2 linked regions of the Homo sapiens genome follow. The protein of the gene in region 2 purifies or fractionates together with the protein of the main gene of each other region. This does not show direct contact. Each region holds a gene or a part of one and is shown on either strand. Other genes may lie near its edges. The genes, in order: FUT8 and CD200R1.

Region 1 (7,285 bases), on a different chromosome or scaffold from region 2:
CATTGTACATGTTGTGTGTTCTTAAATTTTGTTTTTATAATAGCTACAATCCTAAAATTTCAAAAACGAAGCTTCAAGTAGAATCTTATATGGGCGAAGGTATTAATTGTGTGGTAAGCTAGGTATTTATCAAAAGTAGATATAATTCCTTTTTTTTTTTTTTTTAAAGTAGAGATAATTCCAATAAAAAAATGGACCTTTTAGACATCTGGAGAACAATATCCCCAGGTCACTTAACCCTTATCTCCTGCAGTATAATGCAGTGCGTCCAGCTGATCTACCAAATTGAATGTGTGCCTTTGAATACGAAGCAGTTGTTTTGTGGCCTGTGGCATTTCATTTAGGTTTCTAAGCTGTAATAAATTAGTATGTTAATTTACTTCTTTCCATTCACATATTCTTTAAATCCAAGCCTAGAAACTGATAGTTATATGTATATTAAAATCATTGGAATATTGGTTTTTTTGCAGATAGTGTTTGGGCTGTTTATTATCCATAGCTCTTCATTATGTAAATAGAATCTCAATGCTGATAAAGTAAATAGATTCTTCCATTTCATTAATGGTTATTTTTGATTTATGATAAACTGCATTTAATAAATCTCTTGATTTAGTTAAATGGTGGATACATCATTTCATATTATAGCAAATTGATAAATATAAAAGAAAGTTTTACAATCATAAGAGTAAATATTTAAAAAAACTTGAATAAGTTACTTTACTAAACATAAAATTAAGATTTTTAAACAACTCTGAAACTAAAAGTATTACTATTATGGTACCTTTTTTTTTTTTTCCCCCAAAGAGATGTGATCTTGCTGTTTTGTCCAGGTTGGCCTTGAACTCCTGGGCTCAAGCAATCCTCCTACCTCAGTCTCTTGAGTAGCTGGGACTATAGGCATGTGCTACCACAGCCAGCTTTATTATAGTACTTTTGTACCCTGCATCAATGCTGCTTCTGTTGATACTTTTCAAAGGAGATATCAACTTCTGGTCTTCAACAGTAGTGTAGCATCCTCTTATTGATTCTCTGGCTCATATTTCACTACCGTATAGTATGGAGTTTCTTTCTTGGAGTTTGAATTGTTTTTACATTGCAGCTTGTTATAGTGAAACAATTAAACATATTTAAAAGTAAAAGATATTTACGACTGATTTTTAAAGAACCTGTAAAAAAATCTCCAACAGAAGAATATTATATGGGGATGTGTAGATTTAACATTTTATTTTCTTTAATTTTTTTTTTTTTTTTTTTGAGATTGGGGTTGGGGGTTGTCTCTCTATGTTGCCCAGGTTGGAGTGCAGTAGTGGCGTGATCACGGCTCACTGCAGCCTTGAACTCCCTGGTTCAAGCCATTCTCCCGCCTTAGCCTCTGGAGTATCTGGGATTATGGGTGCATGCCACCATGCGTGGCTAATTATTTTTTAATATTTGTAGAGATGAGACCTTGGTATGTTGCCCAGGTTTGTCTTGAACTCCTGGGGTCAAGTGGTCCTCACACCTTGGCCTCCTAAAATGCTGGGATTACAGGCGTGAGTCACTGTACCCGGCTCCTTTATTTTATTAAAAAGATTTTTGTTTGTTTGTTTGTTTCTAAGTTTAAAAGAGACAGGGTCTTGCCATGTTGCCCAGGCTGGTCTTGAACTCCTGACCTCAAGTGATCATCCCACCTTGGCCTCCCACAGGCGTGAGCTACCATGCTTGGTTGTAAGATTTTTAAAAAATGGATTAGTTTCAAATCTCAACTTCTCTTTCTTTCAACATTCTAATCTCCTGGCATTTTTTTCCTTTCCCCAGCTACCCCCCATCATCCAACAGTCTTCCATTTGGAATAATGGGAAATCAAACCAATAAAGTTAATCTTACCTCCCACCAGGCAAAGGTTTTTCTTAATCTCTACAATATTCTGAACATAAAACCCATATAAACTTTATATGATACTACACATTTTCCTTTTAACGGAGGAAGAGCAAATGGGACCTATGGAATTATGCCGTATTTGTCAATATAAGGGTTACTTTTGTACTCTTACTGAAAGCAGAGTTATAGGGCTAATTTCATTTAAATTTTCTTACCCATCTACTTTAAAAAAATACCTCTTTGTGGTAGTCTTTTTTTTGGTCAGAAAATGACAATGTGAAGGAGAAATACGTTTTGAATTTATAAATCTTCTTTTAATTAACAAATTATACCAATATAAGGGTAGTGTTAATGTGGTTCAAATTTGCCTTTGCTATTCTGCCTTTTCTTCTATAGTGATTGTATAGTTATACTATAACTTCTTCCTCGAAGCACTGGAATAAAAGAAAAACTTTTAAAGATCACTACGAAATGCTCACTGTATTTGTTGTATTTTATAACTTGGGTTTTTAAAATTTATTTTTCCATAAACTGAATAAATATGAAAACGAACTTGAAAGATCTTGTCACAGCCTTGATGACTGGTCAGTATAAAGTTCACATTATAAAATAATAAAACATTGATAATAATCTTAGATGAAAATGGAAAATTAAGCTAATGTTTATTTTAGAACCTGAGTAATGAGTTTATATCATGTAGCAATGAGGCACATGAAGACGGTTAGAATTAGTTTTTCTAATGAATAAACTTCATGATATAAACTTGAAAGTGCATAAATGCTATAACTTTCTGATTGTAAACTTGAACAAAAGTAAAATGAAAATGGGAGAGTCCTCTTAATTACCTTTAACGTATAACTAAAATGAACCTGTGTATCTGTCTAAGTCTTATTTGATCAAGACTTTCAATGGACAATGAATGAGTTTTAAGTTTTTATCAATGTTGTGACTGATTTTTCTATAATATCCCTTAAATGAGATATCAAATTCTAATAATATCTAGAACCAGATTAAATTTGGTTAGAGTATAAACAATATTTACAAACCATCAAAACTATAATAAAAGCATTGTAATGTTATTTAATGACTTAAGCCAACATTCCATAAGCTAATCTAAGCATTTTTACAATTAATACAATTGATAGTAATATCTTAATTAGTGGTAAAGTGGACAGATATAATTTATAGATTCTGTATTGTCTGGGACCTTGGGGCAGTCAGTGAAGAGAGGGAGATAGAGAGAGGAGCATACTGGTTGATGAGCTTGCCTTATTTGGAGATGAAGGAGATTTATTCAGTTTTTCTCTTTCCCTCTACTTACTTCTCCTTGTTTGTCATCCTCTTCTAGCAATGGTAAGAAATGCGGGAATTGACCATCTTTACAGTATACTTTTTTCCTTAGAGTTCATAGAACATTTCCAGGTAAAACATTAGCTTTTATGTTATAATAGGTTTATTATAATGATATCATTTCCTTTTGAGGTGGTAGGCAAGAGACTAGAAGAACTTCATTTGTATAGCATTTAATATTATTTATTAAAAATGATTTTATAGGCCGGGCGCGGTGGCTCATGCCTGTAATCCCAGCACTTTGGGAGGCCGAGGCAGGTGGATCACCTGAGGTCAGGAGTTGGAGACCAGCCTGACCAACATGGAGAAACCTCATCTTTACTAAAAATACAAAATTAGTCGGGCATGGTGGCACATGCCTGTAATCGTAGCTACTTGGGAGGCTGAGGCAGGAGAATCACTTGAACCCGGGAGGCTGAGGCAGGAGAATCACTTGAACCCAGGAGGCGGAGGTTGCAGTGAGCCGAGATCTTGCCATTGCACTCCAGCCTGGACAACAAGAGTGAAACTCTGTCTCAAAAAACAAAACAAAACAAAAAAACAAAAACAAATTCTAACCTTCATGTGCCTCATTACTGTAATGTAAAAAAAAAAACTATGTTCATTGAAGAGAACTAACATATTAAACTAAAAATGAAGCACAGTGTTCTCCACTCATGGGAGTACTGTTAGCAGGTTTAAGACAGTTACTGTGAGAAGTTCACAAGGTGAAAGTGTCTTTGATAATTAGGGCCTAATCAATTGGGATTTGACTTACTCAATTTCTCCAACACATGGAATTGTACTGGTACCTGAAGGAGAAAAATATATAATAGAAGTTGTATTAGTTTTTATGTCTTGAGCTCTCTGAATAACTACTTGATTCATTCAGTTGCCAAATGTCAAAAGATTGTAATTTTGAGAAAGTTGATTCTTTACAATTAGAACTAAGCCAGGGTAAACAATTTGCTTTCTTTTTCTAAGTTTTAGGTTTTTCTTTCTCTCTTAGGAAGTTTAGTGAAACTCTAGGGGTTAGGCAGGTTGTAACTGAAATTCTTGAGGCCAAAAGGTCCTGTCTTATGCTTGGTAAACCGACCCCCTCAACAGCGTGAGAAATGTAGATGTACTGATAACCCTGATTGCTTCGTGACATAATTACAGACATCCAGCCCTCTATCAACTAAAATTCCGTTTATTTTTAAGGTTCAAATATTAGAAGTATCTGCTTGATACATCTCATAGGTTGTCAAGTGTGCATACGATGAGAGATATAATGTTACTTTTAATTTGTAAGTAAACAAACACACAATATTATGTTCTCAATGCTGAGTAAGCTGAAAAGATGTATACCTACTGAGGATGCACCAAATAATAAGCAACAGAAACCTGGTAATGTGCAATTAGGAATAGTTCCTCTTAATAATAATAAAAAAAAGATTAGTGTTTAGGTTTTAATGGCATAAAGATGTAATGAAAATAAAATTACCAAAGAAGTCTATTTTGGAGAAATTTTTGTCAGACTAGATAACAAAGAAAAGAACACATCCTTTTTTTATTTTTATTTTTTATTTTATTTTAGAGATGAGGTCTTGCTCTGTTGCCCAGGCTGGTGTTGAATTCCTAGGCTCAAGTGGTCCTCCTCCCTTGGCCTCCCAAAATGCTGGGATTACAGGTGTGAGCCACCAAACTTGGCCAGAACACATCCTCTATATGACTGTCTACAGAGGCTTAGAGTAGTACAGAAGTACCTGAAAGGAAATAATGATAAATAATGAAAATGTTTTAATAGGGATCATGTGTTCATTTCTACATGTATATCAGTATAGTACCTATCGTTTGCTGTTTCTGCTTGTAAATGCACGGTTGGAAAATAAGATACCCAACCTTTGGAAATTATTCAGGGAAGTGCATCTAAAGTTTAGAGAAAAGTTGGTTTCTTCATATTTTAATGACACTTTTCAGCACGTATAGTTCACCCTTGAACAGCACTGGGTTTGGGGCACAGACCCCCATCAAGATGAAAATCCACATGTAACTTTTATCTCCTCAAAAACTTAATTACTAATAAACTACTGTTGACTTCCAGCCTTACCGATGACATAGTCAACTAACACATTGTACCTTATATGTATTATATACTGTGTTCTCAAAGTAAGCTAGAGAAAAGAAAATGTTATTAAGAAAATCATAGGCCGGGCGCCGTGGCTCACGCCTGTAATCCCAGCACTTTGGGAGGCCAAGGTGGGCGGATCTTGAGGTCAAGAGATCGAGACCATCCTGGCCAACATGGTGAAACTCCATCTCTACTAAAAATACAAAAATTAGCTGGGCGTGGTTGCATGTGCCTGTAGTCTCAGCTATTCAGGAGGCTGAGGCAGGAGAATTGCTTGAACCTAGAAGGTGGAGGTTGCAGTGAGCCAAGGTTGTGTCACTGCCCTCCAGCCTGGCGACAGAGCGGGACTCCATCTCAGGAAAAAAAAAAAAAAAAAAAAAATCATAAGGAAGAGAGAATATATTTACTCTTCATTAAGTGGAAGTGGATCATCACAAAGGCCTTTATCCTCATTGTCTCCACATTGAGTAGGCTGAGAGGAGAAGGAAGCGGAGGAATTCGTCTTGTTGGTCTCAGCATGGTAGAGGTGGAAGGGGGAAGGGGAGGCGTGAGAGGCAGGCACACATGGTGTAACTTTATGGCAATACGTCATACTTCTGCCTTTTTTGCTTTTTCATTTCTCTGAAAACATTTCCATATGGTACCAATCCTTCTTCCACCGTTTGCTTTAGTTTCAGTGCCCATATCAGAGAAGGGTCCATGTCATGAAGGAGTCAAAAGCAGTCTTGAACAATCAGACAGTCTTCTGCCATATCGTCTGATGTCATTTTGTTTTCTTGCATTCCTTCTACATTACCTGGTACTGGATTGGAAGCACTTACCGAGTCATCTTTTTAAATTCCTCTTGTGTGATGTCTATTTCTTGAATTTCTCCAAGATTTGTATCTTGAAACCCTTTAACCCACCCCCCCCTTTTTTTTTTTTTGCCATATCCACAGTCTTTTTCGTGATTTCCTTGATTGGCCCTGTGGCAAATCCTGTGAAGTCATGCACAACATCTGGACACAGTCTTCTCCAGCAGGAATTTATTGTTTCAGGCTTGATGGCTTTCATGGCTTTTTCCATAACAACGACGGCTTCTTCAGTGGTGTAATCCTTCCAGACTTTCAGGATGGTTTCTTTATTGGCATTCTCTTTCATAGAGTTGACAGTACTTTCTGTAGTGTACTGTGTCCAGTGATCCTCGTGACCCCCTGATTTAGAAGCTGAATTAGAGACATTTTGTTTGGGGGCAAGTAGACTACTTCAGCACCTTTGGTGTTGAACTCATGGGGTTCCGGGTGGCCAGGGGTATTGTTCAATAATAAAAGAACTTACAGGCAAAATACTTCCTGACTTCAGGGACAAAGCATCAATGGAACCAATCCAGAAAAAGGGTTCTCATTGCCCAGGCTTTTTTTGTTCTATGACCAAAAGACTGGGAGCTGGTGTTTATCTTTTCCCTTCAAGGCTTGGGGGTTTGTAGCATTATAGATAAGGGCAGTTCTGATCATAAACCACACTGCATTTTCACCAAACAGTAGAGTTAGCCCATCCCTTCCTGCCTTTAATCCTGGTGCTTTTTCTCTTCCTTACTAATGAATGTTTTTTATGGCATTGTTTTCCAGAATAGGGCACTTTTGTCTATATTAAAAACTTGTTTAGGCGGATATTCTTTCTCCATATTTCTTTTTTTTTTAAGAGATAGGGTCTTGCTCAATTGCCCAGGCTGACATGCAAATGGCATGATCATAGCTCACCGCAGTCTCAAACTCCTGGACTTAGGCAGTCCTCCTGCCTCAGCCTCCCGAATAGCTGGGATGCAAGTGTGCACCACTATGCCTGGCTAATTTTTAAATATTTTTTATTTTTTTGTAGAGACAGGGTCTCACTGTGTTGCCCAGTCTGGTCTTAAACTCCTGGCCTTAGGTGATCCTCCCACCTGGGCCTTCCAGAGTGCTGGGGTTACAGGTGTGAGCCATTATGCCTTCCCCCAGCTAATTA
Region 2 (7,285 bases):
TTCTTAAGTAGGTTTCAAAAGCTTTGTCTTCAATGAATTTGTCCATTTCAACTGTTACTGAATTTGATTAGCGTAATATTGTTAATAATATTCCCTCATTTTTCCTTTCACGAATGTAAATCTATATGAATGACCCTTCCTTCCTTCCTGATATTAGAGATTTGTGTTCTATTTTTTTCCTTATCAGTCTAGTTGTTAGTTTATAAATGTTGATTATCTTTTTAAAGAACTAGCTTTTGATTTCCTTAATTTTTTGCATTGCTTGTTTCCTCTTTTATTGATTTCTGCTCTTATATTTATTATTGTGTTTTCTCTCTTTTGTTTCTTGCTTCTATGGGTGAATTTTACACATTTCTTCCTTTAAAATTAGCACTTAAAGGTATTACTTTTCCTAAAACCACTGTGTTAGCTGCTTATTTCAAATTTTGGCATGTTGTATTTTCATTATCATCCAGTGAAAACTTTAATTTCTTCATGAATTTCTTCTTTGAGCAAAGGGTTGCTTAGACGTGTGTTTGATTTCTAAATATTTGGTATTTTCTTAAAAATCTCATTGTAATTGATTTCTAATTCAATTCTGTTTTGGTTGGAGGACATCTTTTATATGACTTCAGTTTTTTTTAATGTTTTTGAGACTTGTGGCACAGAATGTGGCCAAACTCAGCGAATATACGATGTGCACTTGCAAAGAATGTATTCTGCAGATGCTGGGTTAGGGTACTAAAAATATGAATTAGGTCAGTGTGGTTGATAACTATATTAGTTGTTTATAACTATGTAATGAATTACCCCACAACTTAGCAGCAGATAAGAAATATGTATTTTGAAAGATAAAAATACATCTTAAGTTGATATTGATACTTTTCATTAAAATTTAGGACTGAGGATTTTTTTTTCCTTTTTTTTTTTTTCTTTGACGGAGTGTCACTCTGTCACCCAGGCTGGAGTGCAGTGGTGTGATCTCAGCTCACTGCAACCTCTGCCTCCCGGGTTCAAGCAATTCTCTGCATCAGCCTCCCAAGTAGCTGGGATTACAGGCATCTGCCACCACATCCGGCTAATTTTTGTATTAAACTTACTTATTTTACATCTATTATCTTCTTTCTTCCTCACTATAAAATTGAACAATACCAACATACAGACATACCTATCTCTCCACAACCTCACCCAACAGTGTATGTTGTCAAACTTTTGGATTTTGCCAGTTATAGATGAGAAATGGTATTTCCAAATACTTTTAATTTGGATTCCTCTTACCATGACTGATGTGAAATATATTTTCATATGACTAAGAGATATTTTTACTTCTTTTTCCATAAAATTTCTGTCCATATGTTTAGTCTGGTTTGCTATAGGTTTGGGTTGATCTTTATTTTTAATCCAGCTTCATCTAGCCACGTGCCAGGGAGCTGTGCAGGCCACTGTTCTAAGCCCATGAATTCTGACAATTGTCTCTTCCCGAACTTAACTATTCCCGTTCAGATCTAGAATTCATAGTGTCTGTGTCCAGATGCCTTTGTAATCCTGATTTTATGGACTTGCCATGCGATCTGCTTTTTTAAAAGTTTGTCTCTCAGTGCTCTTGCAATAACATGGCTTAAACTCACTTCAGTTTGGGTTAATTTGGGTTGTGTATCTATCCTAGCATATTTCTTAGGCTCTAACCATTGATTTCTACTCATAGCAGTAAGACTTACTTGCACTAAGATTCATAATTGGGTAACTGAAGCAGCTTACTAGCCAGGTAGTCTTGGTCAAATTGCTTAATCACTTAATCTACATTTCTTTATCTGTAAAATGAAAATAATCATATCTGCTAGTTATAGAGAGATGGAAATAAAGAACATAGGCAAATTACCCAAAATCTATTCCTGTTATACTCATTCCATAAATTATCTTAAAAGAACAGTTTGCTAAAGAAAATGGCAGCTGAAAGGGGCAGTAGATTAAAACTTTTTCCAGAAAAACACTGAGCATTAAATTTTACTCTAAAAGGTGTCTCTTTGCCAGTCAGATACACTCACTATAGATAAGCTACGAGTGTATCTTTTCCTTGTGAACACATTCCAGGAGCTTTGTGCCTTGCACAGTTAGAGCCTGCCGATATCCAGCCTCAACTCCAATTACACATCCAGGTTTTCTCACTTCATGGCAATACTAAACTATTTATAACTCTTGTAAATTTTTATTTGGCTTTGTACCTCCTTTAAATGCCATTATTTTTGTTTGCATTTTCCCTTCTGTCTTCCTGGAAAACTCCTCATGTACTTAGATCCAGCTAAAAAATTACTTATTATAGGAAAGCATGCCTAATCTCTTACTCCTGTTTTCCTGGAATTTAAACATCTCTTCTTTTAAACTTCTATACATCACAGGCAACTTCGATCATTGCACTGAAAACTTTGCATTATAATTGTTTCCCTAGCTACTGCCTCTCCTGGATCTTAAGCTCTTGGAAAAAAGGGGATATTGTTTATTATGATATCTCTGTGCCTAGCAGAGTACTTTGCCAATAATTGCTGCTTAAAAGATGTGTACTACCAATTCTCACTAAGAGCTTGCCTTGCAGAAATGTGAACTTAATAGGCCATTGTCTATATCACGGGTCCCCAACCCTGGGGCTGCAGACTGGTACCAGTCCTTGGCCTATTAGGGATTGGGCCGCACAGCAGGGGGTGAGCGGCAGGTGAGTGAGAATTGCGGCCTGAGCTCCACCTCTTGTCAGATCAGTTGGAGGCATTAGATGCTCACAGGAGCATGAACCCTATTGTGAACTGTGCATGCCAGGAATCTAGGCTGTGCATTCCTTATGAGAATTGAACTAATGCCTGATGATCTGAGGTGTAACAGTTTCATCCGAGAACTATCGTGCTCCCTTCCTCCTTGTCCGTGGTGGAAAAATTATCTTCCTCGAAATGGGTCCCTGGTGCCAAAAAGGTTGGGGACCGTTTTCCCATCATAGATTCTATGATGTGACTTCAACAATGCTTAGGAAAATCCTTTTATTCCATACCAGCAGCCAATCAATAGTCCCCACTAAACTTTTTTTACCTCCTCATTGGTGCTTGAAAAGCCTAGTAAAATAATTTCTTCCACACTCAGAGATAGACTAAAAGCCTGGAAGAAGACTTGAATATAAAGCAAGAGGGGGGTGATGGGCACTCTGGGCTTAAAGCAGGACTATGCCAGAGTCAGGAAGAGAAAGTCAAAAGTTTATACTGGGACAAATTTTGCCAAGACTTTTGCTTGGCTGTCATAATTTAGATATTCATTGGCAACTGCAATACAAAAATAGTCTGAAGAATGTGAAAAAATATGATTTTAACTAGGAGTCAGATCTATTAATGCATATTTCTCTCTCTACCCCCTATGTCTTTTTCAAAATTCAGAAGCGGAGGGTGCTGCTCAACCAAACAACTCATTAATGCTGCAAACTAGCAAGGAGAATCATGCTTTAGGTAATGTGCATCTTTTAACAATAATTCTAGTAGGGGAGTGCTTGATGTCCATATAGGTTTTACATTTTTGGATCTTGAATTGTCTCATGCATTATCTGTATTATCTAAATGATATTATATTTAAGAGTGTTAATAAATTTTTCATTCTGAAATTATTTCTATGCTTATTTAGTACCTATTTTAAGAATGGGATCACTAAACAAAACCAATGGCCTATTCAAAAAATTTGTTATTCAACTTTTGAAACCTAGATTATTATCCCAGAGCACTTTTTAATAAGCAGATCTTAATAGGTGTTAATGATTTATTTTCTATATCCTCTCTCAACCCTATTTTCTCCAAAATTTTTGTTTGCCATTTTAATTAACATTGAAACAGAAAAGAAAAGTTAACAGACTTTATTTTTTTAGAGAAGTTTTAGGATCGTAGCACAATTGAGTGGAAAGTACAGAAATTTCCCCTATGACCTCTGCCCCCACATGTGCAAAGCCTCCCCATTATCAACATACCTGACTAGAGTGGTACATTTGTTTCAATTAATGAACCTACATTGAAACATCATCATTATCACATTATCAAAGTCCAAAGTTTGCATTAGAGGTCACTTTTAGGGTTGAATATGAATGTTTTCAGGCAAATGCATAATGACATGTCTCCACCATGATAATATTTTATAGAGTAATTTCACTGACCTAAAAATCGTCTCTATTCTACCTATTCATCCTTCCCTGCCCACTAACCCCAGGCAATCCTGGTATACTGTCTCCATAGTTTTGTCTTTTCCAGAGTGTCATATAATTGGAACGTTACAGTATGCAGCATTTTCAGACTGGCTTTTTTCACTTAATAATATGCATTTAAGTGTTCCCCCATGACTTTCCATGTCTTAATGGCTCTTTTTTTTTAGTACTGAATAATATTCCATTGTTTGACTATACCACAGTTTATTCATTTGCCTGGTAAAAGACATCTTGGCTGCTTCCAAGTTTTGGCAATTAGGAAAAAAGCTGCAATTAACACCCATGCACGGGTTTTTGTATGGATGTAAGTTTTCAACTCTTAGGGTAAATACCAAAAAGCATGATTGTTGGATTGCATGGTAGGAGATTGCTTAGTTTTGTAAGAAACTGCCAAACTGTCTTTCAAAGTAGATGTACCACTTTGCATTCCTGCTACCAATTAAGTTCCTGTTGCTCCACTCCTCGCCTTTGGTGTGTAGTGGTTCTCATTGTTGTTTTAATTTGCCTTTCTTTGATGACATATGATGTAGAGCATCTTTTCATATGCTTATTTTCCATAAATATGTACATTTTCCATATATATCTTCTTTGGTAAAGTGCCTGTTAAGATTTTTGACCTGTTTTTTAATCTGGTTGTTTGCTTGCATATTGCTGAGTTTTAAGGTTCCTTTGTGTGTTTTGGATAACAGTCTTTTATCGGATATGTCTTTTGAAAATACAGTTGGCCCTCTGTATCCATGGGTTTCAAATCTGTGGATCCAACCAACCATGGATTGGAAATATTTGGAAAAAATTCCACAAAGTTCCAAAAAGCAAAACTTGAATTTGCCTTACTACATTGAGTCCACAGGATGTAGTGATATACAGGCATTGTATTAGGTATTATAAGTAATCTAGAGACGATTTAAAAAATACAGGTGGTTATATGCAAATACTAAGCCATTTTATACAAGGGATATGAGCATCTGTGGATTTTGGTATCCATGGGGTGATGGAATCCCTCAGAGGCAACAAGGGATGACTGTATTTTTTTTTTAGTATGTGGCTTATCTTTTCGTTCTCCTTTTTTTTTTTTTTTTTTTTGAGACGGAGTCTCGCTTTGTCGCCCAGGCTGGAGTGCAGTGGCGCGATCTTGGCTCACTGCAAGCTCCGCCTCCCGGGTTCACGCCATTCTTCTGCCTCAGCCTCCGGAGTAGAGTAGCTGGGACTACAGGCGCCAGCTACCACGCCCTGCTAATTTTTGTATTTTTAGTAGAGACGGGGTTTCACCGTGTTAGCCAAGATGGTCTCGATTTCCTGACCTCGTGATCCGCCCGCCTCGGCCTTCCAAAGTGCTGTGATTACAGGCGTGAGCCACTGCTCTTAGAAATTTTTCACAGAGTAGAAATTTTTAATTTTACTGAAGTCCAGTTTATAGATTCTTTATTTTATGGATTGTGCCTTTACTGTGGTAGCTAAAATGTCACTGCCAAACCAAAGATCATTTGGACTTTCTCTTATGTTACCTTCTAGGAGTGTTTTTAGTTTTGCATTTTTATATTTAGGACACTGATCCATTTTGAGTTTATTTTTGTGAAAGGTGTGAGGTCTGTATCTAGATTTAATTTATTTTTGCATCTGGATGTCCAGTCGTTCCAACACCATTTGTTCAAAAGACTCCAATGTATTGCCTTTGCTAATTTCCAAATACAATATTTATGTGAGCCTATTTCTGGGCTCTCTATTTGGTTTCATTTACTTATTTAGCTCTTCTTTTGCTAATAAAATACTGACTTGATTATTGTAGCTTTATAGTAAATCTTGAAGTCGAATAGTGTCAGGCCTCAAACTTTGTTCTTCTTCAATAATGTGTTGACTATTCTGAGTCTTTTGCCTCTCTAGATAAACTTAAAAATCAGTTTGTTTATGTCCATAAAATAACTTGCTGAGATTTTGGTTGGGATTGTGTTGAATACATAGATCAAGTTGGGAAAAACTGGGACTTTGGTAATATTCATTCACCCTATCTGTGAACATGAGGTCTCACTCCATTTACTTAGATTTTCTTTGATTCTTTTCCATCAGAGTTTTATAGTTTTCCTCATATAGATGTTGCACATATTTTGTTAGACTTATACCTAAGTATTTCATTTTTGGGGATGCTAATATAAATGGTATTGTGTTTTTAACTTCAAATTCCACTTGTTCACTGGTGACTTATTGGAAATTGTCATACAAACATTGACTTTTGTATGTTAACCTTGAATTAATATCTTCCATCACATCAATGAGTCAATACAATACAAAAAATTGACTTTTGTATGTTAACCTTGTATTTTGCAACCTTGCTGCAATTTCTTATTAGTTCTAGGAGTTTTTTTGGTCAATTCTTTCAGATGCTTTACATAGATAATTATGTCATGTATGAACAAAGACAGTTTTATTTCTTCGTTACTGATCTTGATCCCTTTTATTTATTTTTTCTTGTCTTATTGCATTAGTTAGAAATTCCAGTGGTGAATTAGTTAGAAAAGCATTAGTTAGAAAAGCAGTGGTGAAAAGAGTCATCTTGCTTTGCTCCTGATGCTTTGCTTTCTCACCATTAATTATGATGCTAGCTGTAGAGTTTTTTGTAGATGTTTTTTAAGTTGAGAAATTTCTCTTTATCCCAGTTTACTGAGAGTTTTTAAAAAATCATAAATGAATGTTAAATTTTGTCAAATGCTTTTTATGTATCTATGGAAATGATCATATTATTTAGCTTATTGATGTGATGGAAGATATTAATTCATTTTTGAATTTTGAGCCAGGCTTGCATATCTGGAATAAACCCCAGTTGTTCATGGAATATAATTCTTTTACTACATTCTTGAATTTGATTTACTAATATTTTACTGAGGATTTAAAAATGTATGTTTATGAGAGATATTGGTCTGTGGTTTTCTTTTTTGTAATGTTTTTGTCTGGTTTGGTTATTAGGATAATGCTAACCTGATAGAATGAGTTAGGAAGCATTCCCTCTGCTTCTGTTTCTGAAAGAGATTAAGGAGAGCTGGTATGATTTCTTCCTTAAATATTTAACAGAATTTATCAGTGAACCCATCTAGG

Evidence for each region.
Region 1: the proteins of CD200R1 (region 2) and FUT8 purify together in Homo sapiens (affinity purification with mass spectrometry; 2 studies listed by BioGRID and IntAct, with this or other methods). This does not show direct contact.

What each region holds. Positions count from the first base shown.
Region 1 is NC_000014.9:65,415,534-65,422,818, forward strand, and holds part of FUT8 (alpha-(1,6)-fucosyltransferase), read left to right. Parts: intron 1-7,285. UniProt on the Homo sapiens protein: Catalyzes the addition of fucose in alpha 1-6 linkage to the first GlcNAc residue, next to the peptide chains in N-glycans.
Region 2 is NC_000003.12:112,944,029-112,951,313, reverse strand, and holds part of CD200R1 (cell surface glycoprotein CD200 receptor 1 isoform a precursor), read left to right. Parts: intron 1-3,389; coding exon 3,390-3,458; intron 3,459-7,285. UniProt on the Homo sapiens protein: Inhibitory receptor for the CD200/OX2 cell surface glycoprotein. Limits inflammation by inhibiting the expression of pro-inflammatory molecules including TNF-alpha, interferons, and inducible nitric oxide synthase (iNOS) in response to selected stimuli.